Linked DNA regions of Homo sapiens. The protein of the gene in region 5 purifies or fractionates together with the protein of the main gene of each other region. This does not show direct contact. Each region holds a gene or a part of one and is shown on either strand. Other genes may lie near its edges.

What was found.
Region 1: the proteins of SIRT2 (region 5) and GART purify together in Homo sapiens (affinity purification with mass spectrometry; one large-scale study listed by BioGRID and IntAct). This does not show direct contact.
Region 2: the proteins of SIRT2 (region 5) and RAB3GAP2 purify together in Homo sapiens (affinity purification with mass spectrometry; 3 studies listed by BioGRID and IntAct, with this or other methods). This does not show direct contact.
Region 3: the proteins of SIRT2 (region 5) and RUNX3 purify together in Homo sapiens (affinity purification with western blotting; one study listed by BioGRID). This does not show direct contact.
Region 4: the proteins of SIRT2 (region 5) and CDC14B purify together in Homo sapiens (co-immunoprecipitation; one study listed by IntAct). This does not show direct contact.
Region 6: the proteins of SIRT2 (region 5) and KRT2 purify together in Homo sapiens (affinity purification with mass spectrometry, with the first as the bait; one study listed by BioGRID). This does not show direct contact.
Region 7: the proteins of SIRT2 (region 5) and CDC27 purify together in Homo sapiens (co-immunoprecipitation; one study listed by IntAct). This does not show direct contact.

The regions. Positions count from the first base shown.
Region 1 is NC_000021.9:33,518,118-33,521,617, forward strand, and holds part of GART (trifunctional purine biosynthetic protein adenosine-3), read right to left. Parts: intron 2,899-3,500; coding exon 2,789-2,898; intron 2,446-2,788; coding exon 2,247-2,445; intron 1-2,246. UniProt on the Homo sapiens protein: Trifunctional enzyme that catalyzes three distinct reactions as part of the 'de novo' inosine monophosphate biosynthetic pathway.
Region 2 is NC_000001.11:220,147,793-220,150,453, forward strand, and holds the end of RAB3GAP2 (rab3 GTPase-activating protein non-catalytic subunit), read right to left. Parts: 3' UTR 501-2,661; downstream 1-500. UniProt on the Homo sapiens protein: Regulatory subunit of the Rab3 GTPase-activating (Rab3GAP) complex composed of RAB3GAP1 and RAB3GAP2, which has GTPase-activating protein (GAP) activity towards various Rab3 subfamily members (RAB3A, RAB3B, RAB3C and RAB3D), RAB5A and RAB43, and guanine nucleotide exchange factor (GEF) activity towards RAB18.
Region 3 is NC_000001.11:24,913,277-24,916,776, forward strand, and holds part of RUNX3 (runt-related transcription factor 3), read right to left. Parts: intron 1-3,500. UniProt on the Homo sapiens protein: Forms the heterodimeric complex core-binding factor (CBF) with CBFB.
Region 4 is NC_000009.12:96,536,344-96,539,843, forward strand, and holds part of CDC14B (dual specificity protein phosphatase CDC14B), read right to left. Parts: intron 2,798-3,500; coding exon 2,735-2,797; intron 706-2,734; exon of another isoform or gene 603-705; intron 1-602.
Region 5 is NC_000019.10:38,893,119-38,896,618, forward strand, and holds part of SIRT2 (NAD-dependent protein deacetylase sirtuin-2), read right to left. Parts: intron 1,038-3,500; exon of another isoform or gene 750-1,037; coding exon 701-749; intron 410-700; coding exon 296-409; intron 1-295. UniProt on the Homo sapiens protein: NAD-dependent protein deacetylase, which deacetylates internal lysines on histone and alpha-tubulin as well as many other proteins such as key transcription factors.
Region 6 is NC_000012.12:52,646,635-52,649,211, forward strand, and holds part of KRT2 (keratin, type II cytoskeletal 2 epidermal), read right to left. Parts: intron 2,469-2,577; coding exon 2,373-2,468; intron 1,704-2,372; coding exon 1,539-1,703; intron 1,222-1,538; coding exon 1,096-1,221; intron 327-1,095; coding exon 106-326; intron 1-105.
Region 7 is NC_000017.11:47,182,796-47,186,295, reverse strand, and holds part of CDC27 (cell division cycle protein 27 homolog), read left to right. Parts: intron 1-3,500. UniProt on the Homo sapiens protein: Component of the anaphase promoting complex/cyclosome (APC/C), a cell cycle-regulated E3 ubiquitin ligase that controls progression through mitosis and the G1 phase of the cell cycle.

The DNA.
Region 1 (3,500 bases), on a different chromosome or scaffold from region 5:
GGTGGTTGAAAGGCAATTTTTGTTTGTTTCAAACTTTATTCCCAGGCTTCTTTAGCTTAATTAGCTACAAAGAATAAATTGTGGGCTGGGCATCGTGGCTCACGCCTGTAATCCCAGCACTTTGGGAGGCCGAGGCAGGTGGATCAGGTCAGGAGTTCGAGACTATCCCGGCCAACATGGCGAAACTCTGTCTCTACTAAAAACACAAAAATTAACCAGGTGTGGTGGCTTATGCCTGTAATCCCAGCTACTTGGGAGGATGAGGCAGGAGAATTGCTTGAACCTGGGAGGTGGGGGTTGCAGCGAGCCGAGATTGTGCCACTGCACTCCAGCCTGGGTCACAGAGCAAGACTCCATCTCAAAAAGAAAAAAAAAAAAGAAGAAATTGTGTATAAGCAAAAACTGAAAAGAGCTGCAGTGTCCAACAGGAATGGGGCTTAAAATATTAGAGATCTAAATTTTATCAGATCCATAAACAATTTCAGAAAGCAGTCATAATGTAAAATAGCAGCTCCTAGTTACTTCATATTTTTTCTTCTTCAGAAGTTGACTCAATTCAGTTTGCCTCATTCTTAATAGCCTCATCAAAACTCCTTACAAGATCTAGAACTTCATCACCATCCCCTCCATTAGCAAGCAGTGCTTTTCCATCCACAGACTATTTGGGCAGAGCTTCAGTCGGTCTCCTTAAACTAGTCAGATTGTCTGCACCAAGCTGGTTTAAGATGCTGGTAGCATTTCTATCAGCTGCGTTGTCTCAGCATGGCCTGTAATGGTGAAAGTGTTCACTGCCCCAGAGAAATGCTACCAGCATTTTAGGTTGTTAAAGTGGATCTCTGGTCTTCATTTGTAAACATACTCACCCCTTCAATACCAGAGATATTGTTTACCCTTAACTTCTTAAGGAGAACTGAAGTTTTTATCATCTGCTGTAGCTGAACCACCTTCTTTCTGTTTCTTTTCCATCATTACGCAATTGTGCCTGCAATTTGGTTGTTTCTTTCATCTTGTCAGCGTGGAAAAGGGTCATGTGGAGGACTAGGGTTGGTGCTCAAGGGGTCCTGGGTAGACCAGCTGAGATTAGATGCACACATGTGCAGATGCAAGATGGCACAATTTCTGGTTTAAATGGTCATATAAAAGAGGCAGTTTCTGGCCGGGCACGGTGGCTCATGCCTGTAATCCCAGCACTTTGGGAGGCCGAGGCAGGCAGATCACGAGATCAGGAGATTGAGACCATCCTGGCTAACACGGTGAAACCCCATCTCTACTGAAAAATAGAAAAAATTAGCCGGGTGTGGTGGCGGGCACCTGTAGTCCCAGCTACTCGGGAGGCTGAGGCAGGAGAATGGTGTGAACCCAGGAGGCAGAGCTTGCAGTGAGCCAAGATTGCGCCACTGCACTCCAGACTGCGTGACAGAGCAAGACTCTGTTTAAAAAAAAAAAAAAAAAAAGAGGCAGTGTCTTTGGGAGGCTGTGATGGGAAGATAGCTTGAGCCCAGCAATTCAAGACCAGCCTGGGCAACATGGCAAAACCCTATCTCTACAAAAAGTACAAAAATTAGCTGGGTTGGTGACACATGCCTGTAGTTCCCAACTACTTGGGAGGCTGAAGCAGGAGGATCCCTTGAACCCAGGAGGTCAAGGCTGCAGTGAGCTGTGATTGAACCACTGCACTCCAACCTGGGTGACAGAGAGAGATTCCCTTTTTTTTTTTTTTAAATTAAAAAAAGAGGTTATTTTGTTCCTTGATCAACCTACAGATTCATTTTGCTCAAACATTTCATGTATAAAGATACTTCTATAAAACTTGGGCGTATATTATTATTTATGTCACTCTATGGGAAAATTTGGCTTTAGTTAAGATCCGGAATGCCAGGAACCCATCTGCCTGTACCGTGGGGTCAATAAGGAGGAAATAACTCCTAGACCTGTTTGTTGAGGAGGCTACTGAGACTGATGGGGATGTTAAAAGGTGGCCAAAAATTGGGAAGAAAGATAAGGCCTGCCTGACAGTTTGGGAGTACGGGTCTAGAGGACAAACCCCTGAGGAGGGCTTTGAAGGTAGCAGGCTCTAAATTTAATTCAGGTAGTTTTACCTATATTTCATTTGTGCATATCACATATATGCATCTTGTGATATACAGTCTCTCTTGCTAGCTACATTGGCACTGATCACATTTTTACATAGGGCTAAAACACAAAAAGAAGAATGACATGTTATTGATTAAAATGGCTGATCATACCAAGGAGAGCACATCCAGCTTTTCCACAAGCTTTAGCAATTCCAGCAACAACAGCTTCAGTTACACTGAGGTCAAGTTTTCCACAGGAAAAGTAATCAAGGAAGAAGAGGGGCTCTGCTCCTTGTGCCAGAATATCATTAACACACATTGCTACCAAATCTTGACCAATGGTATCATGTTTATTGCATAGCTGGGCAATCTATGTAAGAACAATATAAACATCCACATTAGGGAATAAGTTCAAAATTGTATCTTATCCATTTGATTAGCTGCTCTTAACACCTAAAAACAAAAGAACACGAAATTCTGACAAGCTACTTGGTCTAAAAGCATCCCCTTTTATCCTCTAAAGTACCCTTCCATCCAAATATAATCTAAATAATAATTTGTTATTAGAAATGTGCAGATATTTTAGCCATTTTACATGGTTATTTGGCATGGTCCTTTTTAGCTCATATATGTCAAGAGAAGAAAAATACATATTTGATATAAATTTCCTCATCTTTCCTAAAAGGCCTTTATTCACAAAGGTGTCTGATTACCTTTAGTTTAGTTCCAACGCCATCTGTTCCAGAGGCCAGAAGGGGATCTTTGAAACCAGCTGCTTTTAAATCAAAAAGACCAGCAAAACCTCCAAGATCAACTTTACAGCCTGTTGGAGAGGAAATTAATTACTTGCTACATTTTAATAGATTAAACATGTAATTATTTAAATGTCTACTAGTTTAAAAAAACCAGTATATTTAGCGGCCTGTGAGATGTACTTCTGGAAGAAATAGATGATTGGAACAGCTGTTCTCAGAGATGACATAATCAAATCAACTGGGAGAATGTAATCATTTAATAGATTAACATGTAACATGTTAATAGGTTAAACATGTATATACATACCACTTGTTCATAAGAATGGCTGAAACAAGAGATGCCCTTCCTGAGTATGAGAGATTGCACCATGTGCTCAAAGAATTGATTAAGAAAGTAATTAAGGCTGGGCGTGGTGGCTCACCCCTGTAATCCCAGCACTTTGGGAGGCCGAGGCGGGTGGATCACAAGGTCAGGAGATCGAGACCATCCTGGTTAACACAGTGAAACCCCGTCTCTACTAAAAATACAAAAAAATTAGCTGGGCGTGGTGGCGGGCACCTGTAGTCCCAGCTACTCGGGAGGCTGAGGCAGGAGAATGGCGTGAATGCAGGAGGCAGAGCTTGCAGCTAGCCGAAATGGCACCACTGCACTCCAGCCTGGGCGACAGAG
Region 2 (2,661 bases), on a different chromosome or scaffold from region 5:
TTTCCTGTAACTATAGAAAGAATTATGTATATATACATGCAGAAATATATATGTGTGTGTGTATCTGTGGATGGATATATGTATATCTCTTCCTATATATATCCATAGTGGACTTATTCAGAACATAGATATGTATTCAGCTTGTCTTCAAATACGGCCAAGCAGAAAATGTTTTATATTTTATAAATCATCTTTTGACTCTGTATTTAAATTCTATGATACTGAAAATAAAGGCATTCTGGAAAAATACTGACTGATTTTGGTGCAGAAGTTTTGAGTATCAAGTAAAAGAAGTATAGTTTTGAAAGGGAATGGCGGAGGCCTGTTTCCCTTAAGAGGTGAAGGGTCATTTCATTCTTCCCATTAGTGAACATCAGCCTTTTCAGAATAGCTAGTTTTTGGGGTTGGATCAGAAAGAATATAATCACCAAATTTGTTACTCAAGAAAGGAAGAAATCTCTTAATAGTTAGTTATACTTATGAATGTTTAGGAAACAACATGAAAGCTGAAAATTTATTTCACTAATATACATAAGAAGTTCACAACAATGAACAGACAGAAAATAGCAGTATATACAGAATTTCACTACTTACAGTACATTACAATAGAGAAAGCATTTTATAAACAGTTCAGTATTGGATTAAAATCTTTTAAGGATGGCTAATTCTATTCAGCAGGAATCTAACTTCTAGACACCCAGCAAACCCATTCCTATCAGGGTGAGAGAGGGCTTTTGCTGTTGCTATAGTGTACTGTAAAAATATTTGTTCCTTATAAATGAAGTGGACCACAGCAACTTCTAAATGAACATTATATTCAGTGTAAGTCTCATATTATTAAATTTCAGATTTTTGACTTTTTAGATCGCAATTGTTTTTAAAAAGCAATTTAAATGTAACAGTGTTTACTTTGACCATAGATGAAGTTTTATAATAAAAGTAAAACTTTTTTTTTCTGTTTGCAAAAGTATGAAGCATTAAGAAGCATGGTGCTATATATCTCTTTATCTACATTTACCCTGGCCCCTCTAGTTCTGCATCTAAACAGAACCTGTAATGTAGAAGTTATGATTATTTGAACACTTTTTGTTTTCCTTCAGCATTATACAATATAATTTAATAAGATACAAATGCATATTTAATGTTTGTTAATGAAGAAAGTTGTGTGAGGGTGGGCATATATCTAGGAAAACACTACTGGTTACTGGCTTCTCATCAATAACTACAAAGTACCACATACCTTTGTTTCAGAAACCACCCATTCTACATTAAAATCTAATTCCTTTATCATCTATGGCTCTTTGTTATTATAGAATGTCTACATAGGTATTTATTTGCCTTTCTTCCTATCAATCAGATTTATTTATTTTAAAAGCCCTTGATAAGTAGTAAAATATTTAACTGCTTTTCTTAACCATACAAGTCAGAATTAGATTTTAAAATTCTATGAAAAATTTTAGGATAACAAATCTAACTAGAGACTTAATGATTTGTGTTAGGATTCTGTGAGCCATACTTCAGCTTATTATTGTTCTCAGCAATCCCCAGATTTGATTGTCTGTTCTACCAGAGTAAGCTTAACCAGTTTTATTATCTAAAATGCTTAATAAGTGCCCCCTCCCCGCCAAGTGATGATGGAATTGAGGATTTATTCTTTAAAAATACCTATAACTCCAAGTTTCTTTGACTAGCCTCCTTAAGTTCATACTACTACTTTCAGCGTACTTGGAAAAATCACAGGAAGAACTAATCTCTTAGAAAACATATAACAAGTGACTGTTAACACAGAGCCAGATATGTTTACAAGAATTCTAGGATGTGTGTGGCTGGGGCAGCGGAGACCCAAGCAGAGGCTGGGAGGTTGGACTAGCCCTTTCCAGTGCTGCTACTCTGTAAAATGTATGTCTCAATCAGACTCACAGGCCCCCATCCCAAATACTCAAGACATCTTAACCATTTATCTTGTAAGATTTCAAGTTTGATAGTTACTTAACAGTAATTACTAAATTTTAGCCAGTTAAATTCTTGTTTGGATGTGCTCTTTTAGCTCAAAAAACAGATTTGTTTTTCTTTTTATATCCCTGAAGGACATACTCCTCAACTTTGCATGATTACTATAGTTGGCTTCTTAAGGGGAAGTGAAGAAACAAACTTCTGTATCACAATGACTTACTATGAATAATAATTGTGATCCATGACAGATACCCATAATTACACTGTATGGCTACATTCTAAAAATATACCACAATAAATACTTGGTATTTGTAGAGCTCAAAGCACTCTTTTACAGAGTTTTGGTTAGTTTGGTTTTTTCTTTTTTTTTTTTTTTTCGAGACAGGGTCTTGCTATATTGCCCAGAATGGCCTCAAACTCCTGGGCTCAAGCGATCCTCCTCCAGCCTCCCGAGTAGCTATAGTTTGGTTTTAATCAGTAAATATTTATTTAGCACTTGGACTGCTCTAGGCACTATAGGGTACAAAATTAGTTGTATTTTATCCTCTCATCCCAGCTGTGAGGTAGGTTTGCTAAAGCTGTAATACCACTAAGCAGTTTTTTCAATACTGTTCCCAAGGACAGATAATATTAGCAAATCCCAGAAGCATTTCTAAACACTTGTAGGAAAAATAAAGTCGGACTTAAAATTTTTAGTATCTTTGCCTT
Region 3 (3,500 bases), on a different chromosome or scaffold from region 5:
TAGTGTCTATGACCCTCACTTATGGGAGGGCAGATCCCAGCCTGCCCCTCCCAAGGGCCCAGTGGCCCCAAGCTCATACCAGGCAGCTCTCACCCACCAGTGGTCACTGTCTTGGGCAAGCCACTCTTGCCTTCTGGGCCTCAGCTGTCTTATCTGCAAAATGGGGATCACACCTCTAACCCCCGAGGGTCAGGAAAGGTTTCAAGAATTACACAGCCCACCAGGCCTTGGCCTTTGAGGAAGGTGTTCTGGGTTCCCATTCTGACTTGGCCATCTGCTCCTAGGCAAACAGCTCCTCTCTGATGCGTCTGTGCAGTGGGGGTGACCCACCTCACAGGCATATGATAAAGGCCAAAGTGGGAGCAGGAATGCTGGGCCCCAGCCAGTCTGGGGACTCACCAGGGTCACGCAGTGTGGGAGCTAGAGGACCAGGGCTGGATTCTGGGTTGGCAGCTCCTTTACCACTGTCCCCAGGGAATCCTTCCCCACCACCAGCCTGGCCAGCCTGGGGTCCTACCCCCGCCAGGTACCTGATGCTTCTGGGGGAACCAAGAGACCATCAGGGTTACCCCCTTGCCTCCATGCAGGCCCAACACAAGCCCCTGTCATAGGAGTGGCAACCATTTTAGCAGGCATCCATGATGTGCCGGGCACTGTGCAAGGGGGGCCATGCATGTCGTCTCCAAGGGTCATATCCCTCTGACAGGCTGTGACTATCACCCCCGTTTTACAGATGGAAAAGTGGAGGCACACGGTCAAGGTCACACGGTGTGTGGCACCCCTGAGATTCAAACCTGGAAAGGTCACACATGGAGCTCAGCTGCTAAGGTCATCGCTTCCCAAGACCTCCATGAGAGAAGAGCTGGGTCACCTGGCCGTAAGGTCCAGCTGGCAAGAGGCCAGCTCAGTGTTCAGCCTCTTGGGAAAAGCAGAGTCGGGCAGGGCCACAGGAACAGCATCGTCTGCTGGGGACAGTGTGGGCTCCAATGACCAGGCCCGTCACCCATCTGAAGCCACTCGGCAGCCTTCTTGGCCGCCTGGTGCGGCTGTGACCCAGACACAGCAGCCACTGTCTACCCAGCAGCAGGGTGGGGCGCCGGGCCCGAGGCCGGCTCTGCGGCCTGTCAGGAGATTTACACCCGACTCTTAACAGCCTCGCGGAATCGCAGGCGGGTGCCGGGCCTGGGGTGGTCTGCTGTGAATCGGCCCCCTGTGAGCAGATGAAAGCCGGGTCGGTGGCTGGGCAGGGAAACGGGCTGGCCGGGGGCCAGCGGGCAGGGAGGCGAGCGGTTCCCTCCCAGGGCTGCAAGTGGGGCTTCCAGAGGCCTGGGGTTGATTAGGAGAACCCAGGAGGTCTGTGGTTAACCCCTTCCCTCCTGCTGGGCAGACTCCGCTAGCCCTGCCCCTAGCGCAGGAGACACTCCTGGGGGTTGTGGGGATCTTGGGAGCCAGGGACCTGGAGCAGCTGCCTCTCCTCAGCCCAGGAAGAAACTACAGAAACTCTAAGGCCTTCAAAGGCCCAACTGCGGGCTCAGGGTCACTTCTCCTGCCCACGCCAAACCCTCGGCAGCCACACTCTGCTGGCTGCTCACTTCAGGCCCCTGCTCAAAGGTCACCTCTTCAGGAGGCCTCCCCGCCCCATCCCTTGTTCCATCCCTTGCACGCTCCACTCCTTCTCCCAGCTTTGTTTTTCTTCATAGGACTTCCTACTACCCGAAATGACATTAATGAATCATTTGCTTATTCATCAACGATTTATGGAGCAGCTGTGAAGGGCTCCTGCCCACATTCTCAGGGTCTAGCTATACCAGGGCCTGGCAAACCAGAGCAAAGAACTCTGCCCTTGTAGAGCATAAACAACAGGGGGCCGGGTGCGGTGGCTCACGCCTGTAGTCCCAGCACTTTGGGAGGCTGAGGTGGGCGGATCACTTGAGGTCGGGAGTTCAAGACTAGCCTGGCCAACATGGTGAAACCCTGTCTCTATTAAAAATACAAAAATTAGCTGGGTGTGGTGGCGTGTGCCTGTAATCCCAGCTCCTAGGGAGGCTGAGGCAAGAGAATCTCCTGAACCTGGGAGGCGGAGGTTGCTGTGAGCCGAGATCTTGCCACTGCACTCCAGCCTGGGCAACAGAGCAAGACTCCATCTCAAAAAACAAAACAAAACAAAATGGGAGAAATGAATAACAAATGAAACAAACTATCGGACTAGATAGCACCTTAGAAGGTGGTAGTGGTAAGTGCTCGGGGTAACCTTAAAGCCAGGAAGGAAAAGGGGGAGAGGTGAGGAAGGCTGTGTGTGTGCCACTTGAAACAGGCGGGCTGCTGAGAAGTGCAGAGGCTTTAGGGTGTGAAGGAGTGTGCCATGCATCTGGGGGTGTCCGGGGAGGAGTGTTCCAGATAGAAAAAAGAGCAGTGCAAAGGCCCCCGAGGCAGGAGTGTCCCTGGCAAGTTCAAAGACCAGCCAGGATACCAGGGTGGCCAGAGCAGGATGTGGGAGGGAGGGCAGGGGGTAACGGGCACAGGCTAGGGGGGCGTGAGGGCCTTTCCCCCACCGTGGTCCATGCCAGACTTGCCAGGTGTCACCGCCCCTCCTGCTGGGATCCTGGACCTGGCTCAGCAACCTGCTTCTTAACCAGCCCCCAGTGACTCTGAGGGACACCAGCACTGAGAACCTCAGAAACCGAGGCCACACAGGCAGGAAGCCACCAAGCCAGCCTTCAAACCCAGCTGGCCACCTGGCTGCAGGCCGGGCACGCTCTGCAGGGCACCAGAGGGGAACGACCCGGCCACAGAACCCACAGCCGGCCTCAGGGATCTACAGATTCCCAGTCCTTGGCTCCCAGGACCAGCCCCTACTCCCACTTCACCCCACAGCGGGCTCAGATTTCAGAGGGTCGGAGGTGGCAAAACAGGAAAAAAGCCGGGAAAGGAAGTCCAGGAGCACAAAAGGCCTGTAACAACCTGTGAAGGTTGTGGGGGCACTTCCTGGGGCCAGGCCCCGGTAAACTCAGTCAACCTTCACAGCGACTCCCCTAGGCAGACACCAATACCATCCATTTGACAGCTGAGCACACTGAGGTGAAAAGGCCCTTCCAAGTGGCCCTCACTTCCCGCAGCCCCCGGGTCGGAGCCCCCAGGGTGTGCTGACAGTCACCTTGGGCAAAAGGTTTTGCGCCCTGGCCTCTATCCTCTCCTGGGGTTGCCCAAGAGATCAGTTACTGGGGACTTTGCACAGGGCCTGACGCAAGGGAGGGGGTTGCTCAGTGACCAGGAGCCGCTGAGCTGGTCCCTTCACTCTTACAGATGGGGACGCTGAGGACCCGAAAGGCCAAGGATTTGTCCAGGGCCAAAGACAAAGGAGTGGGGCTGCAACCCAGGGTATGGGGGGGGACCTGATCTCAGGGCCAGGATATGCCAGGGACAGGAACAGGCAGGTCCTAAGGATGGGGGACCTAGTAGACTGCCCCCCGACTCCATCTCTGCTCTGTTCTGTAAATAAA
Region 4 (3,500 bases), on a different chromosome or scaffold from region 5:
TCACTACAAAAGGAACAAATACCAACTAGTGTTTTTAGCAGTTTTGCTTACATAGACAAAGTAACTTGTTTCAAATGTTTAATGTTTTAAGGACAAGCGCAAAAAAGGTGTTAATAACTTAGCTATATTCTGTAAGTTTAAGGTGCTAGTTAAATGTACGTTGTACTTTAGAAATGGACTGCTATCAGAGAAGTAAAGACAGGGTTGGCCCTAATGAATCCTACAATGTATTCTTACATCTTTGGTACATCACAGAAACAACTGAGTGTCATTATTAACTGAAATTGAAAAAACAGTTCAGTTAAACGTAAGAGTTTGAAATAATATTTACTTTGGACGTTGTGAAAAAGAATTCTCTGAGGATTCAAGATGCTGCCACATGAAGTGCTGCTGTTTGAGGAATCATCTCCCCAGTGCTGGGGAGCAAGTCTGCTCAAGGTAACTACAGCAGGGTAAGAAGACAGGAGGCTACAACTACTCTGGGCTGAAAAGGGCTTTAGCACAGTATCTTACTCATTCCCTATTTGGAGGATAAAGCTGTAGAATCAAATTATTTATTCTTTTTAAAATATATATACTATGTTAAAAAACATAGAACACACCTGTGGTTTTGCCTGGCTTATCTCTCCCTGGCCCTGTCCTATGTTTTTAAGAAATTTTGTGTGGTTGGGTGCCGTGGCTTACATCTGTAATCCCAGCACTTTGGGAGACTGAGGCAGGTAGATCCCTTGAGTGCAGGAGTTTGTGACCAGGCTGGGAAACATGGCGAAATCCCATCTCTACAAAAAAATTACAAAATTAGCTGGGCATGGTGGCACGTGCCTGTAGTCCCCGTTACTGGGAGGCTGAGGTGGGAGGATCACTTGAACCTGGGAGAGAGAATGCAGTGAGCCAAGATCGCACCACTGCACTCCAGCCTGGGCAGCAGAGTGAGACCCTGTCTCTAAAAAAGAAAGAAAGAAAAATAAAATAAAATAAAACTGTTAGAAAATAAATTTTTTTTTGGTCCGGCTGGTTTGATGGGGCTGACCCTATGCCCCAGGCTCCTGGGATGGCCAGAGAACTAAGGCTGGCCAGAGTATTCCTTAGCCCTGCCCTGCCAAAGAACACAGGCTGGTGCAGAGATGGGCACATGACGTAAGTCAGGCCAGTGAGAGGCATTCCTGGGCCTTCTGATGGAGCTAAGATTACACTTTTCTGATCATTTTGCCAAACTGGCAGGTCAAAGTTGCTGGTGGCCATCTTTATCACTACTGGAGAAGGCTGGCCTGAGAATAAAACTAACTTCAAGTCCAATTTCTGATTAAGTGTCTGAGCACCTGAAGGGGCATGCTAGAAGCCAATCCTATTCCTGGACTTTTAATTTATGTAATCCAGTAAATTTTTCCCTTTTTTTTGAGACAGAATCTTGCTCTGTCACCCAGGCTGGAGTGCAGTGGGGTGATCTTGGCTCACGGCAACCTCTGCCTCCCGGGTTCAAGTGATTCTCCTGCCTCAGCCTCCTGAGTAGCTGGGACTACAGGCGCCCACCACCACGCCTGGCTAACTTTTTGTATTTTAGAGATGAGGTTTCACCATGTTGCCCAGGCTGATCTCAAACTCCTGAGCTCAGGCAATCTGCCCCTCTAGGCCTCCCAAAGTGCTAGGATTACAGGCATGAGCCACTGCGCCTGGCAGATTTTTCCTTTTTTATTTAAGCTATTTGTGTTTACTTTCTGTAACTTGCAACCAGAAGTGTCCTGACAAACCGAAGGTTATGGCAAAAACAAAGATATTTTCCAGAGATAATTAGGTGTATAATGACTATTCATCTCATCTTATTCTATGCTAAGGGTTTTAAAAGCATCTCAATCACTGTGTGACAGCCATCAATACTAAAATACATTTAAACTAAACAGTATAAAGAACACACGGGGCACACTCATTCACTCTAGAATTGTGCATCAAATGCAGAAATTCCCACTGAGAATTGGGACAGGAGAAATAGGGATAAGAAGATGAAGACTTGACTTTTTTTCACTCTATACACGTCTAAAACAAAACAAGAATATTGCTTCTGTAAGTGAAATGGGTGATTAAGAAAGCTAAAAACAGGGCCGTGCACAGTGGCACACATCTGTGATCCTAGCACTTTGGGAGGCCAAGGTGGGAGAAGTGCTTGAGGCCAGGAGTTCAACTCTAGCCTGGGCAACAAAGTGAAACCCCATCTCTACAAAAATAAAAATTAAAAAATTAGCCTGGCATGGTGGTACATACCTGTGATTCCAGCTACTTGGGAGGCTGAAGAGAGAGGATCATTTAATCCCAGAAGTTCAAGGCTGCAGTGAGCCATGTATACCACTGCACTTCAGCCTAGGTAACAGAGCGAGACTTGGTCTCTCTCTTTTTTTTTCAATTTAAAAAAAGAAAAATTAAAAACAGGCAGAGAAATTTTGGTCAGAGTACAAACCATCAGAGGATAAGTAAATTCTGGAGATCTAATGTGTGTACTGTATGCTTGAAATCTGCTAGAGTACATCTCAGGTATTCTCATCACACACGCCAAAAGACTAAATTATGTGAGGTGATGAATATGTTAATTAGCTTGATTAGGTAATCATTTCATGGTGTATACATATATCAAAACATTACTTTGTACATCTTAAGTATATATAAGTTTTATTTGTCAATTATTCCCCTCAATAAAGCTGGGCGGGGGGAGGAAGAGTTGAAAACATGATCCTTGAAGACTTACTTCATAGTGTTCATATTCATCAAGGTTAAATGAGTTGAAATTAAGGAAGCCATACTGCATTGCCTAAAATCCAAAAGAAAGCTTTTAAGAACAAGGATGCAAATAAGAAAACAGTTTCCTATCCAATTTCAGAATACTAAATATCAGGGGCCCCCCAAGAAAGTATTGTCATGATCAGATTACTTTCCACTGAACAGCTTTCAAAGGAAGTGGGCGGCGTCTTCTAAGTGCTTCTTTTATATGGAAATTAATTATAACTATATGTAATAAGTTTGTTGTGTTTTGTTTGGATTTTGTTTGTGAGATGTGCTTTTTTATTTTCATTCACCAGTCATCCTATCCATGTATTGTTAAATAATCACGCCCTGAAAGTAATCCTCTTCTCTTACCAGATCACTACCACCCCTGGCTGAAAATTCAGAAGTTTAGGATTCAAATATAATGCACAACCCAATGGTCTCTACATCGATAAGAAAGAGGAGAGAATCCATGTGCTAGTTTATCCCAAACAAAACCCTCATACTTCATCCATATCTTCATTTTCAAATTCTTCCGAACAGTCTTTAATCAATGTTCCCTAAAGTAAACAGCTCTGACATCAACACTAAAATCAAAACTTTTGAGGAAAAAAAAGATATTCTTTCCATAGGAATAAAACAAAAAAAATTTCTGTCCTATCCTATAGCCTTACTCTGTGTGATAGCAGGCAGAGTATGATAACCAAAATAAGCAGAGTGTCTATTTTCTGAGACAAGGACAAACAGAC
Region 5 (3,500 bases):
CTCCTAGGCTAGTGGAACCTGCATTTGCAGCTGCCAGGAGTTACCTTTACCCCAAAACAAGAAAAGCAGCATCAGAGAGAGTTATGATTTTTAACAAAGTGGAAGCACCTGGACCCAGCCGTGCTTCAAGCTGGATTAGAGCCAACACACTCCTTTTTGGCTTAAGCCAGTTCCAGCTGGGTTTCTTGCTACTTATAAAGAAAAGGTTTCAATAAATGGTTCAAGTGGCTGGGGATGGGAGGTCACTTGGGGCCAGGAGCCAGGCAAAGTGGCCCAATCCTGACAGGGGACTCACAGCGTTCGCTCTGCATGTACCGGGCCACCCCTTCCAAGGTCAGCTCGTCCAGCAGACGCTCCTTCTGGCTGCCCAGGCTGAGCGTCTGGGAGAATAAGTTCCGCAGGAAGTCCACTGACCGGAAAGAAGAGAGACAGCGGCAGGACGGGCATTCAGCCAGGGGCATGGATGTCTCCGGCACCCTGGCCCCAGCCCTGGGGTTCCCGGCCTCCCCACATCTAAAGGCACAAGGCCCGGCCCAGCCAGCGGCCTCCAGGAGCCTGCTCTGGCACTGGTACCCAACCCACTGCTACATACTTTGGATGTCACTCCTGATGGAGTTGAGGAGGTATCACCCACACCCCTGCCCTGAAATCCCCCCGCCCCCCAGAACCCTGCTCCCTGTCCCTCCAGGAAGATACTCACTGTCTGCTTCTCCACCAGCGGCTCCTCCCTCAGAGTCTGAATCTGAGTCCTGGAAGGGGTGGGGTGGAGTGGCCAGGCCCGAGAGGTGGGATTAGGGAGGGAGGAGAGGGGGTGATACCAGGTTTGGGGAAAAGGCTGTGGCAGGAAGGTGGCCTGAGGAAGTGCGGGGTGGTGGAGAGACTGCACTGGGGCTAGCTCCAGGGCTCTGGGACAGGCTGCCGGGGTTGGAGTCCTGGCCATGCCCGTCCCCAGGAGCAAGACCTCATGTGAGTGGCTTTGCTTTGCTTTTCTTTTTTGAGACAGTGTCTCGCTCTGTTGCCCAGGCTGGAGTGCACTGGTGCAGTCACAGCTTGCTGCAGCCTCAACCTCCCAAGCTCAAGGGATCCTCCCACCTCAGCCTCCCAAGTAGCTGGGACCACAGGCACGTGCCACCATGCCAGGCTCATTTTTTGTTTGTTTGTTTGTTTGCTTTGTAGAGACGAGGTCTTCCTCTGTTGCCCAGGGTGGTCTTGAACTCCTGGGCTCAAGCAAGTCTCCTGCCTCGGCCTCCCAAAGTGCTGGGATTACAGGCGTGAGCCACTGTGCCTGGTCGTGACTTTGATTTTCTAAGTCTTGGTGTCCCTCACCTTGGAAAGGGAGCTTGGGTGCTGGGCGCAGCACCAGGGGCGGGGGAAGTGCTTGGTAAGCGCTGGCTGTTGCTGTTATTATCACAGCCTGGGGTCTTCCCTTCGTTCCCGGGTCCCCTGGAGCGTGGGCCTGCTGTCCCTTCCCAGCAGCCCTGGGGGCCTCTGAATAATGTCCCAAGTCACTCTGGGAATGATTCCAATGCAAAGCCTTGGCCCTCACTTCAAGGACCTATGTGCCCCCTGCTCGAGGCCTCAGACACTCTGCCCACCTCTCCAGCAACCTCTGTCTCCTTCCTCGAAGCCTCCCCTCAGCCCAGCTCCAGACTGGCAGGTCTCTGGGACTCTGTCCAGGGCCTCTCTGCTTTCTCTTTCCACTTTCCTGGGGTTACCTGTCTCATCCATGCCAATGACCTCTGCCTCGTCACTCATGATACCATCTCTCTGCCCTCAGATCCGGGGTTCCCTGGCTTCCTGGACACCTTGCCCTAGGTGCCCCCCAGCCTCTCACTCCTACTATGTCCCAAATGGACCCTGGCATCTCCTCCAAGCCCATCCTCCTCCCAGGCCTCATCTCAATGCGATCGTACTGTCCCCCCCATCAGCCAGATGTTTCCTGCCCCCGCCTCCCTCCTCGCCCTCCTGCCACAGCCCTTCAGCTCCAGAGCATGTACGCTGAGCCTCCTAAGGGTCTGTCCACCAACCCCCTTTCCCTCCCCGGCGCTCCACCTGGTCCAGCCTGTCCTCTCCTCCGGGGGTCCTGCCCCAGCCTCCTCCCCCAGCCTCCCAGCCTCAGTCTCCACCTCCCATCCACCCTGCTGCCCTGCATGTGAGGCTGTCTGGGTCAGCTCGCCCCTCTCCACTTCAAAGGCCCTTCTCTCTGGCTTCTGCAGTCTTCCCAGACATCTATGGAATTGCCAGGATGTCCACAAGGGCAGGGACTTTGTCTGGGTGCCCAGCACTGAGAACAGGGTCTGGCTCCTGGCAGGAGCTCCAGGAGCTCCTCTACCTTGGAATGAATGCCTGCTTCAGGCTGGACCACGGCTGGGCCCTGCAATGGATTTCACCAAAATGCAGTTCTGACCAAGCCACCACCTCAGACAACTCCCTTCCCCGGATACTCACTGCTCTGCGTCCAAGTCTTTTTGAATAAGACCCTCCCTTCCGAACATACGACAATTTAAAAAATTGCTTTTTAAGACTGTGCAACTCCGGCTGGGCGTGGTGGCTCATGCCTGTAATCCCACCACTTTGGGAGGCTGAGGCAGGAAGGTTGCTTGATGCCAGGAGTTCAAGACCAGCCTGGGCAACACAGTGAGACTCTGTCTCTATTTAAAAAGAGAGAGAAAGGCTGAGCACGGTGGCTCACGCCTGTAATCCCAACACTTTGGGAGGCTGAGGTGGGTGGATCACGAGGTCAGGAGATCGAGACCATCCTGGCCAACATGATGAAACCCCGTGTCTAATAAAAATACAAAAAATTAGCCAGGCATGGTGGCACGTGTCTGTAGTCCCAGCTATTCAGGAGGCTGAGGCAGGAGAATCGCTTGAACCTGGGAGGTGGAGGTTGCAGTCAGCGAGATCACCCCACTGCACTCCAGCCTGGGTGACAGAGCGAGACTCCGTCTCAAAAAAAAAGAGAGAGAGAAAGAGAGAGTGAGAATGAGAGAGAGAGAGAGACAGAGAGAAAGAGAGATTGGACAACCTCTGCAAAAACCTTGATTATACTCATGTATACTTCAACAACATATAACTTGCGGCACTCACCTTGTAATTGCCCAAGCCCACCCTTATAAAGATAACCACTGTTAGCTAAGCTTAATGGAAATTACTCCAGTTTTCTCTGCATAAAACTAATATTTTTTACAGAAATAGGTCATAGTACAATACAACATCTTGAGTTTTCGGCAGAACAATATGCTACAGACCCACCTAATTTAAAAAATAATTTTTTAAAAAAGAGACGGCATCTTGCTATGTTGCCCAGGCTGGTCTCAAAACTCCTGGGCTCAAGTGATCCCCCTGCCTCCCAAAGTGCTGGGATTACAGGTGTGAGCCACCGTGCCCGGCCTCACCTCGTTTTTCAGAGCAGCTACATAGTATTGGATTGTATGGATGAACCATAGTTCATTTAACCCATCCACTGACAGCCATTTGGACTGTTTCCAGTTTTGCCC
Region 6 (2,577 bases), on a different chromosome or scaffold from region 5:
GGGCCTGCCCCATTCTCTGCTTTCCCTGTCTTTGCCTCCAGCCCTGGCTCTGGGAGAGATGAGAGGAAGGGCCAGGGTCCCCTTCTCCCTTCCCAGTGCCCTCACCTGCACTCCTCGCCCTCCAGCAGTTTGCGGTAGGTGGCGATCTCCACATCTAGGGCCAGCTTCACGTTCATCAGCTCCTGGTAGTCACGCAGCAGCCGCGCCAAGTCCTCCTTGGCCTGCTGCAGGGCCTCCTCCAGGTCATTCAACTTGTTCCTGGCATCCTTGAGGGCATGCTCCCCACGCTGCTCGGCATCTGCGATGGCATCTTGCACATTCTTACACTATGACAGAAGGACAGAGAATGGATTCTGCCTGACGGAGGCGGACAGAGAGCAGAGGTGTTCGAAGTGCAGGAAGCCAGAACCACTGGCCCTGGGAGTGTTAGGTCCCCTCTGGAGTTTAGTCGCAAACAACTGTGCTAAGACTTGCCGCTGTCTCTGGCACATCTTCTTCCCATGTCACCGTTGATGACACCCTTTGGCTTTCCCCATAGTGCCCTTTGATCCTCACATCACAGGGCCTGAATCATGATCCCATTTTACAGATGGAAATGAAAACATTTGAAATGGTCTGCTTGGCAAAGCTTCTGCTGCTGATGGAATCCACTCTCTGCCTCTACCTTTTCTATTCCAAAGCTAACGTCCAGCCCCAGGCCAGCTGCCCTCAATACTCACTGCCCCTCTATGAAACCAGTCGGCTGGTGCTCAGGGCCTGTGCTGAGCACAAACGGGAAGCTCCATCGGCAATCTGCAGCAAATCAATCAAACTAACGTTTGCTCTATTTGTTATGACTCCCTTTTCCTCATATAAACAAGTGAGCACAATTCTTTCCCTTCGATAATCCTTACTTTGGAATGTCTATTAGAGCACTCTAAGAATTGTTATAATAAGCCATAAATTATGTTAAGCTGGGGAATTTGGGATCGATACATGCTAGAGTGCAATATCTCAGTGTCTCTCATCTCTCACATGCACACTCACACACAACCACACTCTCACGCACACCCAGAGACAACCTCCCGCCCCTCGCTGGACAGGGCTGGGCCTCACCTGCTTCTTCACATGTGCGATCTCCCCCTGCAGCCTCTGGATCACGCGGTTCAGCTCGCTGATCTCTATCTTGATCTCTTTCAGGCTGTCTCCATGTCTCCCGACAGTCACCTGGAGCTCCTCATACTGATATGGGGAGAAGAGGACAGTTTGCAAGGAAGTTCCAGCCTGGCTCACATTCCAGACTGACTGGAGTGAAGGAGAGCTGGTTACTGGTCCAGGGAGGGTCAACCCAGCTAAATGTCATGGCTGCATTCATGAGAGGTAGGGACTGTCTCACATGCCCAAAAGGACTTGGTGCCATTCTCAACATCCTTTCTTGGGAATGGTGCCCAACTACCATTAAACAAAAAACCAATAACCTTACTGTACACTTTCCAGCTGGGGGTGCAACCCAGCTCATGGCAGGGAGCTGTGGCTCTTCCTACATTCCCTCTACTTGCCTTGCTGTGGTACAGGGCCTCCGCTTCTTCCTTGCTCCTCTGGGCGATCTCCTCATACTGGGCCTTGACCTCGGCGATGATGCTATCCAAGTCCAGGTTGCGGCTGTTGTCCATGGAGAGGATGACGTTGGTGTCAGTGACACTCTGATGTATCTGGGATATCTCCTACAACACACAGGAAGGTCTGGTCATGACATCCTGCCATAGCTACAGGCAGACAGGAGGCCTCTGTCTCCCAGCATAAGGGAAACGCAGACCCTCAGACTAAGCATACACTAGGTGGGATGAAAATCATGTAACCGTCTACTCCTGGGCCTCTCCCAAGGTTGTCCTGAGAATTGTAGTGAGAGGCACCTGTATTTCTGAGCCTCCTAGTTAACATTCAGCACTTAAGCCAGTTATGGTAAGTGCCCCCAGACAGAAGCTTGTCCATGGCAAATACCTTAAATGGACTTCCTGTTTCAGAAATCATCTGTGCACCCTTGGGTTGGGGAGGGGGATAGGAGACAAATGCATTTTGACCTCTGAAGTACAGTAGGCACAGGAATGGGCACAGGGCTTGTCTCTTCCCCAGGGGAAATGGACATCTGGGGAATGGAGGGAGGGGAAGCTGTCCTGGTGTTTCCTGAACCTTATTCCCATAACATCGGAGGAGAAAATTCCTCACCCACAAGACCTATGCTATGAAAGCCCCCCCAGTGGCCTGGAATGATGGCAGATTGAAGTCAGCTGGTCCATAAACCCCACTTCTGCCACTTTTTCACCAAGCAGAAAGGACTTTCATTTGGTGAGAAGGGTGGGAAGTAAGGGACTGTCCCGGAGCAGCCTCCTTACCGCATCATAGAGAACTTTCAGAAACTCAATTTCCTGGTTCAGCAGGTCCACCTTGGACTGCAACTCCACCTTTATCATGTAGGCATTGTCCACGTCCTGCAAGAAAGGTTGAGGCCTCTGGTGTATGGTTCCCTGTACAGGCCTCTTCCTCTCTCTGCCACTCCCCTCTACTCAGTCCCTGCTGGCTCCTCTCTAAAATCCCAGG
Region 7 (3,500 bases), on a different chromosome or scaffold from region 5:
ATCTAACATGGATTCAAAGAGTAACATATTTTGGCTACTCAATGAGAAATTTAGATTTAATGTGCATTGGTAATGAATAACCATTATATGAGCAGAAGAGTTTTTGAGCAGAGGAATTATGTAATAAAAGCACCACTTTGGGAATATTTATCTGGTGCTGTTGGAAAGGGAGGAAGAGACAAGAGTTAGACATACAGACTAGTAGAATAATCCAACTGCATGATCATGTAGACCAGGGCTGCTTAATCTGAGCACTATTGACATTTGGGGCAAGCTAATACTTTGTTGGAAGCTGTGCATTGTAGAATGTTTTGTAGCATCCCTGGCTTCTAACCACTGGATGACCCCTCCATTTGTGACAACCAAAAATACCCTCTAGACATTGCTAAATGTTGGGGCATTAATTGGGAGTAAGAAGGCAAAATTGCCCAGAGTAAGAACCACTGACGTGCATCTAAACTAAATCAGTATCCTAGAAATTCAATTATAATGTATAATATGAAATTTCAACAGTGATTTTTTTCTTTGTATCTTCTTACATTGTCTGAAGCCTTTATTATCCATTTATTTTATGGTTTTTAAAAAAGGGCAGCTGACTGGGCACAGTGGCTCACGCTTGTAATCCCAGCACTTTCAGAGGCTGAGGCAGACAGATCACTTGAGCCAAGGAGTTCAAGACCAACAAATAAAATAAAATAAAGACAGCTTTTTTGACAAAAACAAGAACACAAAATGTATAAAAAATTTAACAAAAACAAGTAAACAAATTTTTTGTAATAAGCTTTCTCTAACAAAAAATTTATAATGATTACAGGCCGGGCGCGGTGCCTCACGCCTGTAATCCCAGCACTTTGGGGGGCTGAGGCAGGCGGATCACGAGGTCAGGAGATCGAGACCATCCTGGCCAACAGGGTGAAACCATTCCTTCTCTACTAAAAATACAAAAAAAATTAGCCGGGCATGGTGGCAGGCACCTGTAGTCCCAGCTACTCAGGAGGCTGAGGCAGGAGAATGGCGTGAACCCAGGAGGTGGAGCTTGCAGTGAGCCGAGATCGCGCCACTGCACTCCAGCCTGGGTGACAGAGTGAGACTCTGTCTCAAAAAAAAAGAGAAAAATTTATAGTGATTACATTTAAGTCTAAGTACAACTTATAGAGGTTTGTTTATATTTTAAATAATATTTTATATTTAAGAATAGCTAGCTGGTAAGGAATTTTGCAACTTTAAGCTGTTGGTTTATTTATCTTTTAAATTAGTGCACCTGGGGACTAACCCATTAATCAGTCAGATTTCTCTTAAACATTTTTTAGGGGAGAGGGAGAGGAGCGTTGTTCTTTTTGGCTTCATAACTTTCTTTTAGCAGCATTTCGTTCATCTGGCTTTAATTTGTAGAACTCTAGCGGTAATGCACTGGGTGTTCTTTTAAGGGAAGGCCCACACCATCAGTTGGGCAGAGGTGCTGATTTTAGCCCTGTTCATCATCAGCTACTAATCTGTAGTGCCTTAGAGAATAATCTGTTCTTCCCCCCAATCCCGGCACAAGAGACACTGTTAGTCAGGAACTTAGAATTGATTGAGCAAAGCGGGATGGAAGCAGTATGTGAGATTCTCGAGATGGCAAGTTTTTTCTGATGCTCTTAAGAACTGGTGATAAGGGAATGATGTTCTGAGCAAAGCTTGATTTTAAGTCAGAAATGGATACAACTCTTGAATATGATACCTTTTTTCCTTCTTTTTTCCCCCCGCCCTTGCCTCTTATTTCTTTAATTTTAAAAGGACAGAAAAAATTTCAAAGCTCTAGGACTTTTTGACTTTAGTATATGTGTGTGAAATTTTCCTAGTGGTCCATAGTAGTAAAATAGCTGGTAAATCATTTGAGTCTTTTGTGGCTTATATATTGCAAAATAAGCAGTTGTAGCAGGTATGCTGGGGAGATGTTATGCAACAGAAACTACATATTTATTGAATTTCTTTATATTAAGAGATTGGCAAGGAAAAGGTTTTCCAAGTGCTTAATGTATGATAGTATACTAGGAGCATTATAAATGGATCATTTCATTTAATCCACAAAACAACTCCAATAAATAAACTCCATTTATCAGATGAAGAGATTGAGGCTGAGAAAAGTTGAGTATTTCCCACAAAGTCCCACTACTGGAAGTGCTGGCACACAAATTTGAGCACGTCTCCAAACATCAAATCTTTGGTATCTTCATTCTACTCACCATTTTCTTTCACTTACAGCAAAATTAAACATGTAGGTTCTTAGGAAATCCCAGATTTCATAAAGGAGTAATTTGGTGGTAATTATTTGCATAATAAAATAATTCTTCTATTTATCACAGAGTTTCTTTCAATAGAGACTCCCAGAGATTCTTTATTATTAGATATACATCTAGGAATACAAAGAAACTTAATGCTAAGACTAACGTACAAGAGTGTCAACAGTGGAAGACTGCTAGAAATTAAAGATCATTTGCTTATTCATTCAACATATAAGCACCTGCTTTAAAAGCACATAATGGATACTGGGAGTATAATAATGAGCAAAAACAGACGTAGCCCCTACCTTGTGGAGTTTGTAATATAGTAAGGAAAACATCACTCAAATACTCTCCTAAATTAATACAGAATTATAGCAGTGGGAAGTATTACAAAGGAAAGGTACTTGGTGCAATTAGAGTGTATAATAATGGTGCCTAATCTCATCTTTTTCCTTGTATCTAGATAGGAATGGTAAAATTAGACATCTTTGAGACTTTATAAAATTTAAGCTATATAAACAAAGGTTAAACAAGAGGCTCTGGAGATCCCAAACTAAGTTCATTACTGTTCTTTCTTGAGGAAATAGAAAGGGCTAAGTCATTTACTACTTTTATTTTTAAAATTATAATTAATATACTCATTGCAGAATTATTAAACATTTACTTGTTTGTTCAACAAAATTTGTTGAGCCTTTACTGTATCTAAGGCATATTAATCACTTAATATAATTTAGATGTACTGGTACAATGTTAGCTAGTGATCAGTAACCAGATTTTACTGGTTTCCGTTGTAACCTTTTTAAATCATTCAACAAATTATAAGCTGGTGTATGTGCTAAAAATAAAAAATAACGCTTGTATCATGATCAGGTGTGAGATATCTCAAAAGTAGTTTATTACTAAAAATGATTTGACATTACCTAGTAAAGATGAACATATGCATATTCAACAACCCAGTAATTTTATTCCTAAATATATATCCTAATTTGGAGAGATTCTTTTTTGTGTTTTTTTGATGGGAGTCTTGCTCCTATTGCACTCCAGCAGCTATTCACAGGTATGATCATAGCCTTGAACTCCTGGACTCAAGCAGTCTTCCCAGCTCAGCCTTCTGAGTCGCTGGGACTAAAGGCTCACACCACCGTGATAGGCTGGAGAGATTCTTAAATATATACCCCAGGAGATGAATCTAAGACTGTTGCAGCATTGTTATAATTGGAAAAACAAAACAAAACA